4 linked regions of the Homo sapiens genome follow. The protein of the gene in region 1 interacts with the protein of each later gene in a pairwise test. Each region holds a gene or a part of one and is shown in the gene's direction. Other genes may lie near its edges.

Evidence for each region.
Region 2: the proteins of PIM1 (region 1) and ABCG2 interact in binary tests that used the Homo sapiens proteins (3 or more experiments, as listed by UniProt).
Region 3: the proteins of PIM1 (region 1) and FH interact in binary tests that used the Homo sapiens proteins (3 or more experiments, as listed by UniProt).
Region 4: the proteins of PIM1 (region 1) and ZBTB1 interact in binary tests that used the Homo sapiens proteins (3 or more experiments, as listed by UniProt).

What each region holds. Positions count from the first base shown.
Region 1 is NC_000006.12:37,173,152-37,175,967, forward strand, and holds the end of PIM1 (serine/threonine-protein kinase pim-1), read left to right. Parts: coding exon 1-21; intron 22-782; coding exon 783-940; 3' UTR 941-2,277; downstream 2,278-2,816. UniProt on the Homo sapiens protein: Proto-oncogene with serine/threonine kinase activity involved in cell survival and cell proliferation and thus providing a selective advantage in tumorigenesis.
Region 2 is NC_000004.12:88,155,625-88,163,440, reverse strand, and holds the start of ABCG2 (broad substrate specificity ATP-binding cassette transporter ABCG2), read left to right. Parts: upstream 1-4,868; 5' UTR 4,869-5,055; intron 5,056-7,816. Other genes in the region: uncharacterized protein LOC124900867, read left to right, coding at 3,885-3,971, 4,359-4,868.
Region 3 is NC_000001.11:241,509,742-241,516,780, reverse strand, and holds part of FH (fumarate hydratase, mitochondrial), read left to right. Parts: intron 1-3,067; coding exon 3,068-3,178; intron 3,179-4,637; coding exon 4,638-4,814; intron 4,815-7,039. UniProt on the Homo sapiens protein: Catalyzes the reversible stereospecific interconversion of fumarate to L-malate. Experiments in other species have demonstrated that specific isoforms of this protein act in defined pathways and favor one direction over the other.
Region 4 is NC_000014.9:64,514,769-64,521,807, forward strand, and holds part of ZBTB1 (zinc finger and BTB domain-containing protein 1), read left to right. Parts: intron 1-1,831; exon of another isoform or gene 1,832-1,983; intron 1,984-3,588; exon of another isoform or gene 3,589-3,770; intron 3,771-6,718; 5' UTR 6,719-6,736; coding exon 6,737-7,039.

The sequences.
Region 1 (2,816 bases):
TCAGGCAGAGGGTCTCTTCAGGTAACTGATGGAAACCCCTGGCCATGGGGTTATTGGTCTTAATGGGGCTATTAGTCTTCATGGGACAGTCTTTGAAATTCTGGAGAGCTTCACTCTCCAGTAGATTCTGTCACCCTTGGCTTAGAATTGTAGGTGAGTGATTTACACTTGAGCTGGCCTCATAAATCACATGGTTTGCACTTGAGCTTTCCTTGGGAGGTCAGAGGAAGGCATGTGTGAGCATATTAAGAAGAAAAGACAATCTGGCTTCTCCAAAAACTTTTTTAAAGGTACCAACAGAAACCTGATAATTCCTGGCTGTTTTGCCAGGGAGTAAAAAGTTAAAAGCTCTTTTAGCATCTTCTTTAAGGCAGCAGCTCCAAATATTTTGGTACCAGTGACCTCACTGTGGGTGGTGTTCGTGTTTGTAAGTTGGTAGGTGAATTGAATCATTTCATCATGCTCAGTGGTGTCTCATCAAAATCTCTTGTCATCATCCTTCCTATTTCTGGTGAGTGGGTGTTGTGGGAAAGGCCCCCACTATTGAAGTTTGAAAACCACAGGTTTAAGAGGGGAGTCAGTTTTTAGCTGAAAGCAGACTGGAGGACCCAGATATTAGTCAATACCTTCCTATTGAAGGGTACCCAGCACAGTGTTCTAGAAAATGCTTGGCCTCCCTGGGACCCCAGACTTGTGGGCCTCTGAGAAGCAAATGGGGAAGACCTTTGCAGTGTAAAAACAAGTTGAGTCATTCATAACCTCGTCTATCCTCCTTTCTGCAGAATGTCAGCATCTCATTAGATGGTGCTTGGCCCTGAGACCATCAGATAGGCCAACCTTCGAAGAAATCCAGAACCATCCATGGATGCAAGATGTTCTCCTGCCCCAGGAAACTGCTGAGATCCACCTCCACAGCCTGTCGCCGGGGCCCAGCAAATAGCAGCCTTTCTGGCAGGTCCTCCCCTCTCTTGTCAGATGCCCGAGGGAGGGGAAGCTTCTGTCTCCAGCTTCCCGAGTACCAGTGACACGTCTCGCCAAGCAGGACAGTGCTTGATACAGGAACAACATTTACAACTCATTCCAGATCCCAGGCCCCTGGAGGCTGCCTCCCAACAGTGGGGAAGAGTGACTCTCCAGGGGTCCTAGGCCTCAACTCCTCCCATAGATACTCTCTTCTTCTCATAGGTGTCCAGCATTGCTGGACTCTGAAATATCCCGGGGGTGGGGGGTGGGGGTGGGTCAGAACCCTGCCATGGAACTGTTTCCTTCATCATGAGTTCTGCTGAATGCCGCGATGGGTCAGGTAGGGGGGAAACAGGTTGGGATGGGATAGGACTAGCACCATTTTAAGTCCCTGTCACCTCTTCCGACTCTTTCTGAGTGCCTTCTGTGGGGACTCCGGCTGTGCTGGGAGAAATACTTGAACTTGCCTCTTTTACCTGCTGCTTCTCCAAAAATCTGCCTGGGTTTTGTTCCCTATTTTTCTCTCCTGTCCTCCCTCACCCCCTCCTTCATATGAAAGGTGCCATGGAAGAGGCTACAGGGCCAAACGCTGAGCCACCTGCCCTTTTTTCTGCCTCCTTTAGTAAAACTCCGAGTGAACTGGTCTTCCTTTTTGGTTTTTACTTAACTGTTTCAAAGCCAAGACCTCACACACACAAAAAATGCACAAACAATGCAATCAACAGAAAAGCTGTAAATGTGTGTACAGTTGGCATGGTAGTATACAAAAAGATTGTAGTGGATCTAATTTTTAAGAAATTTTGCCTTTAAGTTATTTTACCTGTTTTTGTTTCTTGTTTTGAAAGATGCGCATTCTAACCTGGAGGTCAATGTTATGTATTTATTTATTTATTTATTTGGTTCCCTTCCTATTCCAAGCTTCCATAGCTGCTGCCCTAGTTTTCTTTCCTCCTTTCCTCCTCTGACTTGGGGACCTTTTGGGGGAGGGCTGCGACGCTTGCTCTGTTTGTGGGGTGACGGGACTCAGGCGGGACAGTGCTGCAGCTCCCTGGCTTCTGTGGGGCCCCTCACCTACTTACCCAGGTGGGTCCCGGCTCTGTGGGTGATGGGGAGGGGCATTGCTGACTGTGTATATAGGATAATTATGAAAAGCAGTTCTGGATGGTGTGCCTTCCAGATCCTCTCTGGGGCTGTGTTTTGAGCAGCAGGTAGCCTGCTGGTTTTATCTGAGTGAAATACTGTACAGGGGAATAAAAGAGATCTTATTTTTTTTTTTATACTTGGCGTTTTTTGAATAAAAACCTTTTGTCTTAACTCGTGGCTTCTAATCGTCTGTGCGGAGGCATTGCTAACCTGCATTTATTGAGCATTTGGTAAGTGCCAAAGAATTGTAGGAGAAAGGAATTCTCAGCCTAAATCTGGCTTCCTTCAACATTGGGATTTCTAGGATAGTCATCTTCCTGAAACGAATGTATGGTCAAGGGGTAGGACCAGTATTGTCAAAATTTGGGCAATATCTGGCATGGGAGGCCTAATAAAATAACCTTTTCCAGATTACAATTTTAAAGCTATGCAAATAGGATAGATGTGACAATTTTCAAGTGTTCAATAGCCATTTATGGCTAGTGGCCACCTCATATAAAACATCATTGCAGAAAGTTCTATTGGATGGGGCTGATCTAGAGATAACAAATACATACCTATTACCAAACTAACCCTTGAAGCTTTTATCAGTTGTCTGCCACTGATAGTAAAACATTTTGAGCATGTCCCCTTGGTACACGTGAAGTTTATTGAAAAACTATTGCCTCTATTACTCTCGGTTCCTGATTCAAGTTTCCTTCACCTTTAGT
Region 2 (7,816 bases), on another chromosome or scaffold:
ATGGCTTGTCCTCTTGGCATGCACACATGTTCTAGTCTGTCTAATTCAAACCAAATGAATATTTTCTCTGAACCCTAAGATAGCCTCTAGCTATATTCCTTTCTCTCACCTTCCTTTTATACTGAAATCTTTAGGAAGAGTTTTAAACTGTTTCCATTATTTTATTTACAATAACTGTTTGCACCATTATAGACTGAACTTTCTCTTGCCATATTAGTCAAAGGCCCTGATAGCTGTGAGCTGGGCTGTGGGGGAATACTGTGCACATAGCCTCTCTTCCACTGTTATTTTCTTAACTTGGAGTGGTAATGAAAATAGATATACTCGGACTGAATACATCTGTTATATATGTAACCCAAATGTCCCCAGGCCCATGGTGAATCCTGTCTGAAACCTGACCTTGCCAGGGAAAATTGACAATTCTGGAGTTCACCTTTGGAGTAAGCACTAAGAAATGTAGCATACTGGGGCCTTACCAGCTCTTTGCAACTGGTGCACAGGCATTCAGCAGGAGTCTCAATATGGGGCCTTATAAATACTGGGCAGTGACTCTTGCCTGGTAAAATAAAAGAAAGGTCCTGTGGTGGAGGGCAGAGGGCAATGGCTTGGAAGGCTGTGAGTCACTTAACCTTTAACCTTGTGCAAATCAGTCTCCTTTGCACTGGTGACTTATCTGTAAAATGAGGAAAGTCATCTAACATCTGACCTAATGAGGAAGGTCCTTTTTCTCTAAAATTCTATGGCTAGCTCCAAAAACAATGCTAACTTACAAGTTAAAATGACTCATTTCTATACAGTGCAATACATTTATAAAATGCTGGCTTTAATCTGAACTTATCAAATAGAATTTGATAAAATATTAGGATGAGGTTAGGAACTAATAAAACTTTATTTTGAATTTTTATTTGATTTACCACTGCCTCCCAATGTAACTTTAGTTAGCAAATAAACCGACCTATAAATATGAAACATCACAATCTAAAATATTTTTAAAATTAGACTAAAATTAAGGAAACTTTTTTTTAGTTTTAGTCCTATTTCAAGTGAGGACTCTATTGTCATGTGTCTTTATATGTATATTTTATCAGTTTATTTTACTTTTAAAATCCATTTTTCATTATAAAATTTATAATTTTCTAAATTTGTTACATAAAATTTAGAAAATTACACTAAAATACAAGATAAAAGACATTCCATGTTACTACCCAGAACAAATGAACACTTTCCTGCTATTTTCTTTCTTTCTCTTTTTCTTTAGAGTGGGGTCTCACTCTGATCATGGCTCGCTGCAGCCTTGAACCCCGGGGCTCAAGCAATCCTTCCACCTCAGCCCCCCAAATAGCTAGGTCCACAGGCATGTGCCATCACATCCAGCTAATTTTTAAAAAATTGTTTGTACAAATTTACAAGAAAAAAACAAACAACCCCATCAAAAAGTGGGCGAAGGACATGAACAGACACTTCTCAAAAGAAGACATTTATGCAGCCAAAAAACACATGAAGAAATGCTCATCATCACTGGCCATCAGAGAAATGCAAATCAAAACCACTATGAGATATCATCTCACACCAGTTAGAATGGCAATCATTAAAAAGTCAGGAAACAACAGGTGCTGGAGAGGATGTGGAGAAATAGGAACACTTTTACACTGTTGGTGGGACTGTAAACTAGTTCAACCATTGTGGAAGTCGGTGTGGCGATTCCTCAGGGATCTAGAACTAGAAATACCATTTGACCCAGCCATCCCATTACTGGGTATATACCCAAAGGACTATAAATCATGCTGCTATAAAGACACATGCACACGTATGTTTATTGCGGCACTATTCACAATAGCAAAGACTTGGAACCAACCCAAATGTCCAACAATGATAGACTGGATTAAGAAAATGTGGCACATATACACCATGGAATACTATGCAGCCATAAAAAATGATGAGTTCATGTCCTTTGTAGGGACATGGATGAAATTGGAAACCATCATTCTCAGTAAACTATCGCAAGAACAAAAAACCAAACACCGCATATTCTCACTCATAGGTGGGAATTGAACAATGAGATCACTTGGACACAGGAAGGGGAATATCACACTCTGGGGACTGTGGTGGGGTCGGGGGAGGGGGGAGGGATAGCATTGGGAGATATACCTAATGCTAGATGACACGTTAGTGGGTGCAGCGCACCAGCATGGCACATGTATACATATGTAACTAACCTGCACAATGTGCACATGTACCCTAAAACTTAGAGTATAATAAAAAAAAAAAAAATTAAAAAAAAAAATTGTTTGTAGAGACAGGGGCTCCCTGTGTTGCCTAGGCTTGTCTCGAATTCTTGGGCTCAAGCAATCCTCTGGCCTCCTCCCAAAGTGCTGGGATTACAGGTGTAAGCCACCACACCCAGTGTAATTTAAAATATTTTTTTTTTGTAGAGATAGGGTCTCAGTATGTTGCCCAGGCTGGTCTTGAACTCCTGGGCTCAAGCAATTCTTTGGCCTCTGCCTCCCAAAGTGTTGGGATTACAGGAGTGAGCTGTCACTCCTTGCCCAGCAATTTTCTATGTATAGGTTTTTTTTTTTTTTTTTTTTTTTTGAGATGGAGTCTCACGTTGTCACCCAGGCTAGAGTGCAGTGACATGATCTTGGCTCACTGCAGCCTCTGCCTCCCTGGCTCCAGCAATTCTCCTGCCTCAGCCTCCTGGGTAGCTGGGATTACAGGCATGAGCCACCATGCCCGGCTAATTTTTGTATTTTTAGTAGAGAAGGGTTTCACCATGTTGGCCAGGCTGCTCTTGAAGTCCTGATATCAGGTGATCCACCTGCCTCGGCCTCCCAAAGTACTAGGATTACAGGCGTGAGCCACCGTGCCTGGCCTCTATGTATAGGGTTTTGATTTGTTTTTACTTTGCATAATTACAGAATGCTATATTCAACTAAGTATCCATTTTTAAAAATGTGCTTCATATCAGTTTCGTGTGTGTTTTCTCCATTTTTGTTCAGTCTCCTCCTGTAGTGCCTTCAGATCTTGCTGGAAATGTTTTCATTTTTTCTGGTATCATAAAATTTTATTCTTTTCACTTATCTGGGTGAGCTAAAAAGAAAATTAAAATAAAATTTATTTTTCGGAGATTTTTCAGTTTTTGCAAACAGTCGTTAACGGCCAGGTCTGAAAACTTTATCTTAATTTTTTTTTTTTTCTTGAGACAGAGTCTCACTCTGTGGCCCAGGCTGGAGTGCAGTGGTGGGATCTCGGGTCATTTGCAACCTCTGCCTCCTGTGTTCAAGCGCTTCTTGTTCCTTAGCCTCGCGAGTAGCTGGGATTACAGCCTCGCCACCACACCCAGCTAACTTTTGTATTTTTAGTAGAGGCAGGGTTTCACCATGTTGGCCAGGCTGGTCTCGAACTCCTGGCCTCAAGTGATCTGCCTGCGTCAGCCTCCCAAAGTGCTGGGATTACAGGCATGAGCCACCGTGCTGGCCTTAATTTTGTCTTAAAATGAAGTATGACTAACATGTATTTCTATATGGGCCTTTAAGGGTCTTGAAACTGACAGAAATTAATTCAAAAGAATAATTTTACCCAAATGTTTGGGCGCATCATGAATATATACCTTAAAATTCTTTTAAAAAGCATGCGGTATGGTATATTTAAAATTCTTTTTAAAAAATTATGTATAGTCAATTTTCTTATCTAGGCTTCCTAGCTAAAACTTTCCTGCATTGGGTGAACCATTAATAGTTATTCCTAGTGTTGATTTAAACAACTTAAATGATACTATGATTTTTGTTTGTAAATGCAAACCAGAAAATATCTGCATGCAGGTACTAATTTCCTAGGGTAGATGCAGCAGGTAGATGTTGGGATGGCTACACTCACAAAGCCTGATGGCCCGTTTCCTGAACATGCGCAATCACTTTCTAGCCTTTCCACACCATCGGAATATTGCACAGAAGTATGTCAGTCACAGGAGTGTAAAGAATAACATTTAAACTATGGTAATATTTTCATTCAGTAAGTTTCTCCCCTTTCCTTCCTTGGGTTAGATTCAGTGCCTGATTTTTTTAGGCCCTGGGGCGCAAGCATCCACTTTCTCAGAATCCCATTCACCAGAAACCACCCATTTAACTTGCTCTGGGTGCGAGCAGCGCTTGTGACTGGGCAACCTGTGCGTCAGCGTCCCCGGTGCTTCGGCGCTCCGGCCAGTGACGGCGACCAAACCCAGCTAGGTCAGACGAGGTACTGATCAGCCCAATGAGCGCCTGGTGATTCTCGTAGTTAATCACTCTGGTTCATTCCGTTCGATCCCGGAGGCGGGAGTGTTTGGCTTGTCCCTGCGTGTCACGGCAGGGTGACCCTAGCCCCGAGGGAGGGCGGTGGTACCAGTCCTGCTGGCGGCTCAGCGCGGCAGGACACGTGTGCGCTTTCAGCCGGGTCGCAGGGCGCTTATCGCGGCCCGGCAGTCGGGGCCACGCCTCACCCCCGCCCGCGAACCCCGACCTGGGGAAACCCGGGGCGCTGGGGAGGGGCCACTGCGTTCAGCTCTGGCGGTCCACAGCCCGAAGCGCGGCTTAGGAAGTTCGTGTCAGCGCTGCCTGAGCTCGTCCCCTGGATGTCCGGGTCTCCCCAGGCGGCCACCCGCCGGCTCCCATCGTGACCTCCAGCCGCAGCGCCTCCCACGCCGGCCGCCGCGCGAGGGGAGCGCTCGGGCGCGCCGGGTGTGGTTGGGGGAAGGGGTTGTGCCGCGCGCGGGCTGCGTGCTGTGCCCACTCAAAAGGTTCCGGGCGCGCAGGAGGGAAGAGGCAGTGCCCGCCACTCCCACTGAGATTGAGAGACGCGGCAAGGAGGCAGCCTGTGGAGGAACTGGGTAGGATTTAGGAACGCACCGTGCACATGCTTGGTGGTCTTGTTAAGTGGAAACTGCTGCTTTAGAGTTTGTTTGGAAGGTCCGGGTGACTCATCCCAACATTTACATCCTTAATTGTTAAAGCGCTGCCTCCGAGCGCACGCATCCTGAGATCCTGAGCCTTTGGTTAAGACCGAGCTCTATTAAGCTGAGTGAGTAAATTGTAAAACCAGTTTCGCTGAGAGTGTGTGTCTGGAAAGGTTGGTGGGCGTTGTGTATATATTTGTTAGAAAATCGGTAACCGTTCAAACGAGACGACTGAGTTTTTTAGCCTTTCGCAGTTTCATTTGAAAGTGGGTATGCAGTTTAAAACTGACAGTTCAAAGTGGTTTTTCAGAAAATGATGCCCTGGTGCAAACTGATTCTGGGTCCCATAGTGTGTTAAGTGTGGGTTGGTAAAAACTCTTGGCCTTTCTCCAAATGTATGAAATTAAAGTTGATATTGGAAGGATAAAAACCCACTGAGCACAGAAGTTACTATAGGTGGAGGAAACATTTGTTGATGTTAATATTTTAAAGGGGTTGACCAATATAGGAATTGGTCAATGACAATTGGGAATAGGTAAATGACAAATTATTGGTCAATCCCTTTAAAGCTTTGGATGGTTTGCTAAAGAATTATTGAACTCCCTTTTGTAATTTTCTGTGGATAGTTGAGTGCTCTTACTCCCTTCTCAGTCCTAGAGATATCCCCTAAAGCTTGGTTTTTAGGAGGATCTTACAGCTCTCTTATCATTTGAATGTCAGCTAGTCATAAATAAATACACCAGAGTAGTAAGGAAGAGATGTTTTTTATTGATATTCTTTACAAAACAGTGCTTTCAGAGTACAGCTTTGACTGGATTGTATAGATCTTGATGAGATCTTGATGAGAAAGGTTTCAACGACAAAGATGGCATGTTAAGTCTAACATTACCCTTCCATTATAAACATTGAAAGATGTTGGTTATTTTATTATTTATTTTATAATAACTTTTAATTGTGAAATAATTTGAGAGTTACTGAAAATTTGCAAAAAATAGTACAGAGAGTTCCCATAATATCATGCATAACAAGGGCCAAAACTAATAACATGGGCATGCTACTATAATACAATGAACTAAACTACAGACTTTATTTGGATTTCACTTGTCTTTCCACTGTCCTTTTTCTGCCCAGGATCCAATCGATGATCTCACTTTGCATTTAACTGCTAAATATCCTTAATTTTCTCTGATCTGTGACAGTTCCTCAGCCTTTCATTGTTTTTTCATGGACCTTGACACTAGTGAAGAAGACCCGGTCAGTTAATTTGTAGAATGCCCCTCAATTTGTGTTTGCTTGATGTTTAGTGTCATGATTAGATGAATGTTCTGCATTTTGGGGAAAAATGTCACAGAAGTAAAGTTTCCATCTCAGTATGTCATATTGGGTACATGATGTCAATACTTTTTTTTGAGACTGAGTCTTGCTTTATTGCCCAGACTGGAGTGCAGTGGCACGATCTCAGCTCATTGCAACCTTTGCCTCCCAGGTTCTAGCGATTCTCCTGCCTCAGCCTCCTGAGTAGCTGGGATTATAGGCGCCTGCCACCATGCCCAGATAATTTTTTGTATTTTTAGTAGAGACAGGTTTCATGTTGGCCAGGCTGGTCTCGAACTCCTGACCTCTAGTGATCCTCCTGCCTTGGCCTCCCAAAGTGCTGGGATTACAGGCGTGAGCCACTGTGCCCTAGCCGATACTTCTTATTACCTATGATGTTAATCTGTTTGCCAGATTCCCTTTGTATTTGAGATCTTGGGAGAGAAACCTGCACTGCCATTTTTCCTTAAACTTTTATTCATTAATTTAAGCATCCATTTGTGGAACATGTTGTTTAGCGGGTTTTTTTTCCTAATGGTTAAACAAAACCCCTATTTTCTTCCTTCTACATTTTTTAATTAAAATTCCCTTCTGTAGGGAAGAGTTGACCCTTCTCTCCTGTTCATTGATTCAGTTATTTGTATCAGTATGGGCTCATGGATATTTGTTTTGTTATATGGGTTATAATCCAATATTATCAGTATTTAATTTGCTGCTCAAATTGTTCTGGCTTTCACCACTGGGACCTTTTTCAGGTTGGCGCCTGTGCCACTTTGACATACACTTGCTTTTTCTTTTTCCTTCTTTTTTTTTTTTTTTTTTTTTTGAGACGGAGTCTTTGTCGCCCAGGCTGGAGTGCAGTGGCACGATCTCGGCTCACTGCACCCTCCGCCTCCCAGGCTCAAGCGATTCTTGTGCCTCAGCCTACCAAGTAGCTGGGATTACAGGTACGTAGCACCACACTTGGCTACTTTTTGTATTTTTTAGTAGAGACGGGGTTTTCCATGTTGGCCAGGCTGGTCTCAAACTCCTGGCCTCAAGTGATCTGCCCGCCTCGGCCTCCCAAAGTGCTGGGATTACAGGTGTGAGCTATCATGCCCGGACTCTTTTTCTTTTTTAATGCATTTCTTGATTTCTGGCATCAGAGAATGCTCAGGCTTATTTTGTATTTTCCATGTCCCAACCTTGGAATGATCCATTTCTCCAAGGCACTGTGATTATTTTGCTTTAGAATGGTATTAGAAGCTAATATCTGGACACTGGATGTTCTATTAGAGTTACTTCTTTTTTTTTTTGAGATGGAGTCTTGCTCCAGGCCAGAGTGCAATGGTGGGATCTCAGCTGACTGCAACCTCCTCCGCTTCCTGGGTTCAAGCAATTCTCCTGCCTCAGCCTCCTGAGTAGCAGGGATTACAGGCATGTGCCACCACGCCCAGCTAATTTTTAATGTTTTTAGTAAAGACGAGGTTTTGCCATGTTGGCCAGGCTGGTCTCGAACTCCTGACTTTGGGTGATCCACCCGCCTCGGCCTCCCCAAGTGCTGGGAATACAGGCATGAGCCACCGTGCCCGG
Region 3 (7,039 bases), on another chromosome or scaffold:
CTCTGGAGGCTGAGACAGGAGAATTGCTTGAACCCGGGAGGCGGAGGTTGCAGTGAGCTGAGATCGCACCACTGCACTCCAGCCTGGCGACAGAGTGAGACTCCGTCTCAAAAAAAAAAAAATTAATTTAATTTTAAGTTCCGGGATACACATGCAGGATATGCAGTTTTGTTGCATAGGTAAATGTGTGCCATGGTGGTTTGCTGCACCTCTCAACCCATCACCTAGATATTAAAACCCGGCATTAGCTATTTTTTCTGCTGCTCCCCCTCCGCCCACAGGCCCCTGTGTGCTTTGTTCCCCTCCTTGTGTCCATATGTTCTCATTGTTCAGCTCCCACTTACAAGTGAGAACATGCGGGTTTGGTTTTCTGTTCCTCTGTTAGTATGCTGAGGGTCACAGCTTCTAGCTCCATCCATATCTCTGCAAAGGACATGATCTCATTCTTTTTTATGGTTGCATAATATTCCATGGTGGATATATACAACTTTTTCTTTATCCTTTATTGATGGACATTTGGGTTGATTTCATGTCTTTGCTATTGTGAATAGTTATTTTGGATTTTTATTTGGCAGAACTAAATGATTGTCTTTTCACTCTTGCTGGGTATTTACAGATTTTTACTAGGGTTCTACAGTTTGTAAATATTTTTATTTCAATACTCATTCTTTTTTCCCCCACTAATTTAAAACTGAGATTTTTTAAAATTACACTTTGTATTTTGGTTTCAGTTTCCTAAAAAGTGTATAGTACACAAACACATCAAAGTATTACTCTTAACCATGTCTGACATATAATAGATAATATATAAGTATTTATTCAATTCCATATGAATGATTAAATGATGAGAAAACTTTCTACCACATTCAATTAAATTTAAGATGCCATTAATTAGAAGATGCACCAATAGGCACCACTAAGAAAGAAAAATGCTACCAATTAAGGTTGTGACTTACCATTGATTACAAGATACATCTTGATTTCAGAGATGTTAAAGTGTGAAAAGAATTGAGAAATGCATAACATATTCTACGGGAGCCCAACCGGAGTATGAAAAATAGTCAATGCAGGATAGGCTAGTAAGCCTAGAAGTAGATAGGCTTCATCCTGTGAGATATTGTTTAACACTTATCTTATAAATATGCTTTTATTTTCAATAATTTTAAGTCATTCCTAAGCCTTCAAGACTGCCTCTTGACAGGTATATAGAACTTTACAACAGGCAGCTGAATCTTTGATGAGAATATCTTTGTCATTGCCATCTACAGCCTTCTTGGTGGTGAGGTAAACATAGTTTGACTACGTGGTTAGGTGAAAAAGGGTAGTGACCAATCCTAAAATAATCTCATATTATTCAACTCCAGAGACTAAGGAGGAGGTCAGCCCCAGCTAGTGTTGGTGGGAGTGAGCATGGCTGCCGTTTTCATTGATCTGTGTCACCAGCATGTTTTGTGGTTCTGGTGGGGCATGGTTCCTGCTGCTGCTGCTCCAGAGACAGCACAGCCATTGGGATTGCACACCTGTGAAAGGCAGACACCTGGGGTCTCGATTTTGTCATACTTTCTGAACTTTATTATGTGTAAAACAGTCTGTATGTACTCTAAACTGAGTAGTATGATTAAACTCAACCCTTTTTACTTGAGGTCCAGAGGAAAACAAAGCTAAAAAGATTATGAACATCTAATGTGAATAAATTAAGAATAAAGTGACCTGTCTTTTCTCTCTAGTGATACATTTTGCCATTTTATGGTGTTCGTTGAACCTCTTTCTGCTGTGAATGACCCTTTTTTATTTTTATGGTCCATAAACACTGGGGGTCATTCACTCCATTCAGATGGCCAGCGTTGATTGGCATTCACCTTTGCCCTTGGTAGTGGTTCAGCCCACTACCTCAGTGTTTGTTACTGTGGAGATTTAAATTCCCATTTGTTTTTGTGTTTAAAGTTTTTAAGTTTCTAATCCTGTGTGCCATCTGTCCTCATTTCGTTTGAGTCAAACGTTTCTAATGTTTTAATTTTAGTTACTTAAAATTGAAATTTCAAATTTTCTGGTTTTCCTTTTCTATTTGACCCTCAGCTTATACTTACTCTGGTCCAGGTTTATGTTTTTAATGTGTCTTATTTCTTACTTTTCTTGGCTTTTTCTACTTTGATTCCAGAGATAGCAGGTTCTCTCTTATACATTCATCATTCTCTTCCTTTCTTCCCTTTCTCCCTTCTACTCTTTCCCCATTCAAACCTGGTGTGGGATCTATACAACAATCTGTATTATTAATTTTGACAAGAACTCACAATTCACTTGTCTTATAAAAACTAGGTTTTCATTTCAGTTTATCCTTTTCAAGCTTGGTGAGGTGATTTGGGATAGACAATGAAAATATCTGCATTAATGGGGTTTTATATATATCGGAAGCTGTCACCTTTAGGTCTGGAGAATCTTGGGTTTAAAAAAATAATTCTTCTGAGAGAAATGTCCAGGGAGTTACTGAGTATTAAGGCTTTACTAGCTAAGTAGAATAGATTGCTTTTTGGCCTTGGGGTGAAATGATAACCCAGTCAGTCACTGGTAGTCTCATACTGATTGGCAGTTAAATATATCCCTTATTTATTTATTTTTTTAAGAGGGGAAGGAAACAATTATAATGTAACGTGGGATCCAGTAAGAGAAAATAATGGTTCTTGCTGGTGAAAAGATTGAGTACTAAATTTGTTTTTATTTATAGTATATGAAATAAACACATATAATTTATTGTGTGTATTTGTGCATAGGATTGTATTCGTGTGAATATGTGTGTATATGTATGTGGGAGACGTACACACATATATATATGAAGAGTCAATGTATTTGTTTTTATTTGGTTCCTTAAACAAATAGATCTATGATAATGTTGATTCTTGGTTCATGAATTCCTGTCTATAATCTTTCTCTATAACCGAAACATTTTAGAGCTATAGTGTTACTGTTTTATTGTTATTGTTTTATGTATAGCTTTTGCATCTGCCAAAATAATAAACTTCCATGCTTAAGTAAAATTGTAAATTTGAAATATTTTTCTGATTAATTTTAGACCCCAGTTATTAAAGCTTTTGGCATCTTGAAGCGAGCGGCCGCTGAAGTAAACCAGGATTATGGTCTTGATCCAAAGATTGCTAATGCAATAATGAAGGCAGCAGATGAGGTAGGAGGTGATAAGTGTGTTTGCTTAATAACCTCAGACCCATGCCATACTCTGGATGACGATATGCTCTGGCAGAAGGAAAGGGGAACTGTGAATTCTTGAATTAATGAATTTCAGGGGAGGGTGGTAGCATTATTTTTAGTGGTGATATTAATATGGTGCTTAAAACGTTACATTGTGACAAAATTTCTGGATGATTTTATACCTTTTGTTTTTAAGCCTTTTGACTTTCCTTAATTTATATAGTTTTAAGAAAATTTTTTGAAAAGATATCATTTGAACTTTACTTGATTTTTTATTTTATATATAAATCTTTTTAAAACCAGTTGATTATTTGATAATGCATATTGAGAATGTAATTTTACTAATATGCTAATAACATTGTCTTAAAGAAGCAATCAGAGGTAACAGAACTGTATATATAGTGTTGTTAATTACAGCACTATTTATAATAATGAAAACAAATTAGACAATGCGTAACTATAACAGCTACTTATATAAATTATATTTATATGGTAAATTATAGAAAATTACTTTTTTGAAGATTGGCATGCACAAAGCCTAGCCTATGAGAAATAGGGAGGAAAGTTTGCAAAAATATATGTATTTTACGATCCTAATTTTGTTTAGGAAAAAATGAACAGAAAGTGTGTGTTTCTCATATACACACACACACACACACACACACACACCCTCATTGCATGAGATAGAGACTGGGGATGCCAACATGCTAATAGTCATAATTACTGAGCAATAGAACTATAGTGACTGTTTTACTTTTCTCAGTTCTCAAAATTTTCTACACTAATCACATATTTTTATATAACCAGAAAAAAGTTTTATTTTAAAGTGGACCAGTTGTTCAAGGTAATAGATTTCTCAAGTGCATTCTGATTTTTTAAGCTAAAATCATTCCAGAAGATTGTTAACCACCCATATTTTACAAAGCACACCATCCAAAAACTAACACATAAGCTGGATGTATAAAAATACAACAAAAATAGGGGCAAATCTGGGCAGCGTTTATTTCTACATTTGGTGATTACTGCTCATTGGACATCTGTGCAATGAAGTAGCTATTAGTGAACTCACATTTTCAAGTTACTAGCTCATTAGCATGCTGACTCTGGCAATAACATCTGTTGGATATTCCTGCTGAGCACCAGCAACAAATATATCTAGAGACTAAACGTATTTGCCAGCCTTAACAGGTGGTCCTCTGTTAGAGGAGGCTGTGGGAGAGAGATAAGAAAGATACCTTTGATTCCCTTTTCATTTGAAACCAGTGAATTGTCATACCATTCACTATAGATAATATTTCACTTTTTAAAGTATCTGTGGTTGGAGCAAGTGATGCTTCAGAAGCTTAGATATGTGGGTCAACTGTATTCAAACTCTGTGGCATAATCAGCATTATTATTTCCTTTTTTAAAATACATTTTTAACATTTTTTCTGCAGGTAGCTGAAGGTAAATTAAATGATCATTTTCCTCTCGTGGTATGGCAGACTGGATCAGGAACTCAGACAAATATGAATGTAAATGAAGTCATTAGCAATAGAGCAATTGAAATGTTAGGAGGTGAACTTGGCAGCAAGATACCTGTGCATCCCAACGATCATGTTAATAAAAGCCAGGTCAGTATGTGAGCTTTGCTGTTTTTTGGTTATAAATTGAAAAGCATACCTGAGATTGTTCTTGTAAAACAAGCATTCACTTTTTGACAAGAAGTGTTCATTATTTAATGGATAAGGCTTCTTATGGTTCTTATTTCTTGAAGGAATCTTGGTTTTATGTTTCAATCCTTATAAAAATTATTTTTAGGACACCTGAATTTAGTGTATGTATTTTTTTATTGTTTAAAACTCTATTTTGAAATAATTTTAGATTTATAAGAGAATTGCAAAGATAGTTCAAATAGTTTCTATATCCCTTCACTCAGCTTCCCTTATTGTTAACATCTTATGTAACCATGGTACATTTATCAAAACTAAGAAATTAACATAGATACAGTACTCTTAGCTAAACAACAGACTTTAAAAAAAAAACAAAAAACTGAGGCTTTCCTCAGTTTTTCCACTCATGTTCTTTTTCAGGATCCAATCAATGCTATACATTACATTTAGTCACATGTCCCCTTGGTTTCTTCTAATCTGTGACAGTTTCTTGGTCTTTTGCGATTGTCTCAGTCCTTTGGGGCTGCAGTAATAAAATACAATAGACTGACTGGCTTATAAACAATAGAAGAAGTTAATTTGTCACAGTTCTGGCAGCTAGAAGTCCGAGGTCAGGCCACTGGCCAATTCATTGGCTTGGTGGGGGCCCACTTTTTGGTTTGTAGATGGCCATCTTTTCTGTGTCCTCACATGGTAGAAGGGACAAGGGAGCTCTCTGGGGTCTCTTCGTAAGGACACTAATTCCGTTCATGAGAGCTTTGCCCTATGAACTAATCACCTTGCAAAGGCCGCATCTCCTAATACTATTACCCTAGGGGTTAGGATTTCACATAGCAGTGACCTTGACACTTTGAAAGCAGTGGTCAGGTATTTTGTAGAATGTCCCTCAATTCTGGTGTGTCTGACGTTTTCTCATTAGATTGAGACTTTTGAATTTTTGAGAAAACTATCACAGAAATAAAGGGCCCTTCTCATTGCATCATATCAGGGGTTCATGATAGCAACATGACTTTTACTGGTGATGTTAACCTTAATCACTTGGTTAAGCTGGTACTTGCCAGGTTTCTCCATGGTAAAATTATAATTTTTCCTCTTCTATACCCTGTTCATTAGAAATAGGTCACTAAACCCTGCCTGCATTCCAGGCACTGTATTTCAGTTTCTAGAGGGAGGAGTATCAAAAAGTTTTTGGGCTTACATTAAAATCACTGTAGTAATTAATAGCGCGCTACCTTGAGGCTAGGCAAACATCTTCTTTTTCCTTAAACTTTTTCCTACTATTTTTAGCATTCATCAGGGAATCTTATCTACAGCAATTACTTCCATGGTGTTTTAATAGTGATTTTCAGTTTTCTTTATTCATTCTACACTTGTTAGTTGAATTTTTCTGCAAGGAAGATTTGTTCTCTCTGTCCCATTTATTTATTTATTCAGTTATTTGGGTATATCAGTATGGACTGATGGTTATTTATTTTATTCTTCAGGTTATGATCCCATACTTTTGTTTATATTGTTGCTTAAATTCTTTCAGCTCTGGGAACCCAATTCATTTGGCTCTTGTGTCCTTTTAGGCATGCCACCATCCTTTTACTTTTCTGAAGTGTGTTCCGACTTCCTGGTACTTTAAGATGCTCCAAGCTCATTGTCTTGTATTGTTTCTGCCCCAGCCCTAGAAACAGCCATTTTTCAAGGAACTGTTGGAGAATTCTTATTGGAAAATGATATTTAGAAACTGAGATCTGGGTGCTAAGTATAATTTAATATATTTTTAAGTAGTAAGGAAGAAGTGTTTTTAATACACGTTCATTGTATAAGGGATTTTCCCAATCTAATACTTGCCTTTATGAATTTATGTTCTATATATACTGAAGTCTGAAGTCTGCCTCAGAAAGGTAGAGTTATAGATGAAACGTGATTGGCTACATGTTGATAATTATGTAAACTATTTGAATTCAGGTGACAGGTACATAAGTGTTTATTATACCATTCATCCTACTTCTTTCGTAAGTACTTTATATTTTGCATAGTAAACGTCAAAATATATAAATAATGTATCTTTTTAAATGACAGTATACTTTTATATATATCTGTGTGTGTGCATGCGTGTGTGTGTGTGTGTGTGTGTGTGTGTGTGTGTGTGTGTGTGTGTTTAGAGATTGTGCTTCACTCTGTCACCCAGGCTGGAG
Region 4 (7,039 bases), on another chromosome or scaffold:
GTCCTTGTTTAGTGTTCTTTCCGGAAGACCATACTGTATAGTACCAAGGAAGTGCCATATATAGAGGTTATTACTATCTGGGTGGTCAGGAGTCCTTAGTCCTAGTATGTGCTTCAGCACAGTTAACTATACCCTGATACATTAAAAACCATGTATCTTTGCCTTCTATGGAATAAGAATGTTAGACTAGATTAGATCTCTCTAAGCTCTAAAAATGTATGATTAAATTACTTAATATGCTTAATGTGCTTGGTGACTGTTTTTAAACTTGAGATGAGCCGTTAAACTTTTTCAGACTAAAATTTTAAAAATCCAGTATAAAACTTTTTGGATCACCTAACTCCTTAATTCTTGCTAGAGTTCTGCACAGTGGGTATCCTTCTAGCCTTAGTGTAACTCTTGGCATTATATAGCTTGTTTTCCTTATCCAAATGACATTAAGTCCTTTGAGTCACATTGGAGGTTCTGCTCTCAGACCTGAGCCCTTGACTTCTAGTTGTGCTAAACTTGTCCTACCAGTGATGCAGCTAGTAGTACAAACAAAAGCAATCACAGATTTCAGTCGTAAAAACAAGAACAGCTGAAATACAAGCTGTCCATTTACTTAAAACCTTTTATAGGCTTTACTAGAACATAAAGTTCATTAACTTTTTTTGGCAGCATTAATAAAGAGGTCAAAAAAATGAAAAAAGAGCAAACTCCTCTTGGAATTTGAGTGAAATTATAATTTAATGAAAGTGAATGCCTCATAATTTTTTTTTTTTTTTTTTGAGATGGAGTCTTGCTCTGTCGCCCAGGCTGGAGTGCAGTGGCACAGTCTTGGCTCACTGTAAGCTCCGCCTCCCGAGTTCCCGCCATTCTCCCGCCTCAGCCTCCCAAGTAGCTGGGAATACAGGTGCCTGCCACCACGCCCGGCTAATTTTTTGTATTTTTAGTAGAGACAGGGTTTCACTGTGTTAGCCAGGATGGCTCGATTTCCTGACCTTGTGATCCACCCGCCTCCGCCTCCCAAAGTGCTGGGATTACAGGCGTGAGCCACGGTGCCCGGCCTCAAAAATTTTTAATGAAAAAATTATCTTCAAGAGATAAGCTAAAAGTCTCACAGGAATTTAGATCCCTCCTCCCCTGCCGCATACTCCTCTACCTGTTTTTGGTGTAGTAATCCTTCTTAAAGCTTTTCTGGGCTAGGCACAGTGGTTTATACCTGTAATCTCAGCACTTTGGGAGGCTGAGGTGGGAGGATTGCTTGAGCCCAGGAATTCGAGACCAGCCTGGGCAACATAGCAAGACCTCATCACTACAAAAAATATACAAAAATTAGCCAGTCATGGTGGCGTATGCCTGTAGTGCTAGCTATTCAGAAGGTGTGAGGTGGAAGGATTGCTTGGAGAATGAGTACCCATATTAAAGCAGGAACAGAATGCTATTGAGGACATTCTGAGCTATGATGGCATGCCAGCCTGGGTAACAGAGTAAGACCCTGTCTCAAAAAAATAATAATTAAAATTTAAGAAAAAAGCTTTTCTGAATGAGGTGTAACAAGGACAGAGTTTCTGGTACTAATGTGTCAATGATTGCTATTATAAGTTACTGTGCCTAAAATCAGTTTTACTCAGAACTTGGACATTTGCATAATAATGTTACTTAAACTACAATTCTAGGTCAGCCTAAAAACTGTTGTGTTAGGATTAAAAATTAGACACAGCATTTGTTCAGCTTCCATTTGTTCAGCTTCCAGCTCTATAGGGGGAATATAGGAGTATAAACATGGATGCAGTGGGATTCACACTGTGATCCGTCTGACTGAGAGCACTTGTTCTTTCTACTACAGCATGATGCCTTCTTCTGTAGAGTGGGCGCTTTGCAGAATACGTGTTGAATGAAATCACTGATCTAGGAAAAGTAAAAATTCCTCAAATGAATACAGAATACTTGTGCTACTGCTGATGATCAACACTTTATACAGTGCCTGGTATACCAAAGGTAGTCAGTAAATGTTTGTTGAATGAATAAATGTGCATTAAAATGCTATAAGTGCTCTTATTTAAATGTTTTAGTGTTTTATGTTAATAAAAGAATATGTATTTTTACTCAGTTGAATTGTGACTATAGCTATAGATGTGCCTATCATATTGATCTTCTATGTAGTTGTATTAATTTTGGTTGCTGATGATAAAACTGCTGCTCATCTAGATAAGAAAGGGTCTTTGGAACTTCTGTGCTCTTTATATCATTATTTCAAGCCTGGACTATTTAATACTTGAAAGTTTTTATAGATTAACTACTGGCTTTCTAATGGACTGTTATTTGGAAGGAAATTTTAAGGTTATCAACTCAAACTTACCTGATGCTTAAATAAGCATCACCACCATTACAACATCCACTATTACTTTCATTATTACATGCCAAGCACGATGCATTTTACACATTGCCTCTGTGAATCCTCATATATGATACTGTATTTGAGGTATTATCCCTACCTTTTCAGTTCAGGAAACTTAGGGTCAATGAGGATAAGCAAGTTCCCAAAAGTGGCAAAGCTAGATAAGAAGCCAGGTCTGTCTGATCCTAGGCCCATGCTCTTTTCACTTATTATACTGTCCTCAATAGCATTCTGTTCCTGCTTTAATATGGGTACTCATTCTCCAAACAAGTTTGTTTCATTCTTGAATTACTCTTATTAATAGAAAGTTTGGTTTTTTAGAAATAATACCTATCCCTCTGCCTCTTACTCTATAGTTTATTATTTATTAAATGTCTCTCTGAATCCTAGAAAAATGACTATAGACATAGAAATTTCATCCTACTTAAAACGGGCTTGGGTCAACATTTTTGTGTATTTTTTTCATCTTTTTTCCCCCCACCTTTTGAATAAGGTTGTGGCGTGGATTTGTTTTATATAATTCTAACATAATTATGTATCCTGTGTTTATTTATTTGGCTCTCCATCTTGAACATTTTTCCCACTTCTGTAGTTGCCATTTAGAAATATATATATATATATATATATATATTTTTTTTTTTTTTTTTTTTTTGAGACAGTCTTGCTCTGTCAGCCAGGCTGGAGTACAGTGGCATGATCTCGACTCACTGCAACCTCCCTCAGCCAGGCTGGAGTACAGTGGCATGATCTCGGCTCACTGCAACCTCCCTCTCCCAGGCGCAAGCAATTCTCTTGCCTCAGCCTCCCGAGTAGCTGGGTTTACAGGCATGTGCCACCACGCCCGGCTAATTTTTATATATTTTTTAGTAGAGATGGGGTTTCACCATGTTGGCCAGGCTGATCTTGAACTCCTGACCTCAGGTAATCCGCCCACCTTGGCCTCCCAAAGTGCTGGGATTACAGGCATGAGCCACTGCGCCTGGCCCAGAAATACAATTTTTAATTCACTGCCACATGACAGTGAATTCTGGGGCGTAGATTTACCTTAAGACTCCTTTTTTTACTAGGCATTCAAATGAGAAGTAACTCATTAATGACTATCTTTGTGCATACATTGCTTTTTGTATTTAGATACATACTGAACATGATTCCTCACAGCTTTTTACAGATACCTGAGTTACAGAGGTTTGAAATATTGTACTTACTTGAAACTTGATCTGGCTTCCAGAAAAGGTGCAGTGGTTGCAATTTTAAGAAGGCAGCAGGTTTCATCATAAGCCATCTTCATTTCACCAGTCCTGTATCTCTGGCTATGGAACTTTATGTCTTAGAGGTGGCAGGATGGGCATATAGGTAGTAAAAGGGGCGTATGACCCATATGTGATCGCTGAGGAATGGATAAAAAGCAAATAGAAGTACGTAAACGTAGATACCCTTAATTACTACTACAGAGCTTGAAGAGTGAACATTTTATTTCTCTAAACAGCTTGTTACATGTTCTTTTTAAGTTCAGTCAAATTGCATAGGAACTTATTTTTAAGTAGAAGATAGATTCTGAAGCTTTATGTATACGGATTAAAAATTGAGGCTAAAATTTGATCTTATTTTAACTTTATAATATGATAGGATTTCTAGTGCTTTTAATACTTCCTCTCCTTTCTTCCTTATCCAAAGTCAGCTCCCTACACTAAAAATACTTAAATGCCCACTAATATTGTCTAATGTTAAATGAAGAAAACTAGTTGCAGAGAGGTATATATATATATATATATATATATATATATAGTATGATACCATTTAGGTTAAAAAACACAACAAAAGCAAAACTATGTGCCTGGCATCTCATAGGTACTCAATATGCTAACTATGTACATGTGCATCTCAACAAATCTGAAGGTATATAATCCAGAGTGTTTGGAGGGGTTACCTCTGAAAAGAGGTGTGTGATCTGAGGTGTGTTTTTATTCTATATGCCTCTATGTTTGAATTTTTTGCTACTTTTTTTTTTTTTTTTGAGATGGAGTCTCGTTCTTGTCACCCAGGCTGGAGTGTAGTGGCACAATCTCTGCTCCCTGCAACCTCCGCCTTCTGGGTTCAAGCGATTCTCCCGCCTCAGCCTCCCGAGTAGCTGGGATTACAGGCGCCCGCTATCACGACTGGCTAACTTTTTTTATTTTTAGTAGAGACAGGTTTTCACCGTGTTGGCCAGGCTGGTCTCGAACTCCTGACCTCAGCCTCACCCTTCCAAAGTGCTGGGATTACAGGCATGAGCCACCGCGCTCAGCCTTACTTTTTTCTTTTAACAATTAAAAAAAAAAAAAAATAGAAGAGGCCAGGTGCAGTGGCTCACACCCACAATCCCAGCACTTTGGAAGCCCGAGGCAGGAGGATCGCTTGAACTCAGGAGTTCAAGACCAGCCTGGACAACATAGCAAGACCTTGTCTTTACTAAAATATTAAAAAAAAAAAAACAAAAAAAAACTGAATGTGGTGGCATGTGCCTACAGTCCCAGCTACTCTGGATGCTGTGGCGGGAGGATTGCTTGAGCATGGGAGATTGAGGCTGCAGTTAGCTATGATCATGCCACTGCACTCCAGCCTAGGTAACAGAGCGAGACCCTGCCTCAAAAAAAAAAAAAGGAAGAAAACTTTACACTCTAAGGATAAATAAAATACCTTCTCAAATAAACCCACTGCTTCTTTATACCCTGAAATGCATGTTGAGCAACATGAGACACATTCTAACTCTATAGAATTATTGCTTCTTTGATAATTCAAGAAAAGACAAAGGCACTGATCAAACTTGTTTGGTGCCATTTCTATATAATCTAATAAGGTTGTTGTTGTTGTTGTTGTTGTTGTTGTTTTGAAACGGAGTCTCGCTCTGTCGCCCAGGCTGGAGTGCAGTGGTGCGATCTCGGCTCACTGCAAGCTCCGCCTCCCAGGTTCATGCCAGTCTCCCGCCTCAGCCTCCTGAGTAGCTGGGAATACAGGCGCCCACCACCACGCCTGGCTAATTTTTTTTGTATTTTTAGTAGAGACAAGGTTTCACTGTGTTAGCCAGGATGGTTTCGATCTCCTGACCTCGTGATCCGCCCGCCTCGGCCTCCCAAAGTGCTGGGATTACAGGTGTGAGCCACCACACCCAGCCCTAATAAGGTTTTTTTAAATTTTTATTTTTGGGATAGAGTCTCACTCTGTCACACAAGCTAGAGTACAGTGGCGTGATCATGGCTCACCACAACCTCAAAATCCTGGGCTCAAGCCATCCTCCTGCATCAGTCTCCCGAGTAGTTGGGACTGCAGGTGCATCATCATGCCTGGCTAATGTTTTTTTGTTTTGTTTTGTTTTGTTTTTAAGGCGAGATCTTGCTATGTTGCCCAGGCTTAATAGGGTTTTTAAAATAGATTATTTTAACAACACATGGCCAATCTTGTATCATCTATTGCTCCCCACACCCACCCCATTTATTTTTAAGCATATCTCAGATGTATCATTTCATCTGTAAATACTAAAGTATATATATCCAAAAGATAAGGATTCTTTTTAACACAATCAAAATACCTTTCTCACACTTAAAAAATGAGCAATAGCTCCTTAGTATTAATCATTTAATAAGTTTTTCATACTTTACAATCTAATTGTTAACTTTCAGTTTAAGTTGCTGTTTTATTTACTTTCATTACTCATATCCTTCAAGAGTTGTTTTCTTTTTTTTTTTTTCTTTTGAGACAGAGTCTTGCTCTGTCATCCAGACTGGAGTGCAGTGGCGTGACGCAACTCACTACAGCCTCTACCTGTCGGGCTCAAGTGATCCACCCACTTTAGCCTCCCAAGTAACTGGGACTACAGGTGATGCCACCACACCTGGTTAATTTTTTAAACTTTTTTGTAGAGAAGAGGTCTCACACTATTGCCCAGGCTGGTCTCAAACTCCCGAGCTCAAGCAATCCTCCTGCCTCGGTCTCCCAAAGTGTTAGGATTACAGGCGTGAGCCACTGCACTCGGCCTCCTTCAAGTATTTTTAAATTAATGTCTTTTTTTCTGTTCAAATTTAGTGTACATGTTCCCCCCAAGAGTTGTAATGAAACTAAAACTGTCTTTTGCTTTTGATGCCTTTGTTCAATATGAAAAGCCTGAATAAATGGCTGGATGTCTTCATCTTCAAATTTAAAAAATGATTCAAGTATATATTATTGAGTTTTATTAGAATGGAAAGCTCTTAATTTCTTGATTGTAATAGCAGTCATGCAAGTCACAAATCATGATAAAAGTTAATTTTGTCAAGTGCTTTTCTATATCTTGTTTGACTTTAATATTTTTGTTTTACATAGGTCTCTAATTAACAGAAGATGGCAAAGCCCAGCCACAGCAGCTATGTCCTTCAGCAGCTAAACAACCAAAGAGAATGGGGTTTTCTCTGTGACTGCTGTATTGCAATTGATGACATTTACTTTCAAGCACACAAGGCAGTTCTAGCTGCCTGTAGCTCCTATTTTAGAATGTTTTTCATGAACCATCAGCATAGTACTGCACAACTGAATCTCAGCAACATGAAAATTAGTGCAGAATGTTTTGATCTCATTTTGCAGTTTATGTATTTAGGAAAAATTATGACAGCTCCCTCCAGTTTTGAGCAGTTTAAAGTGGCAATG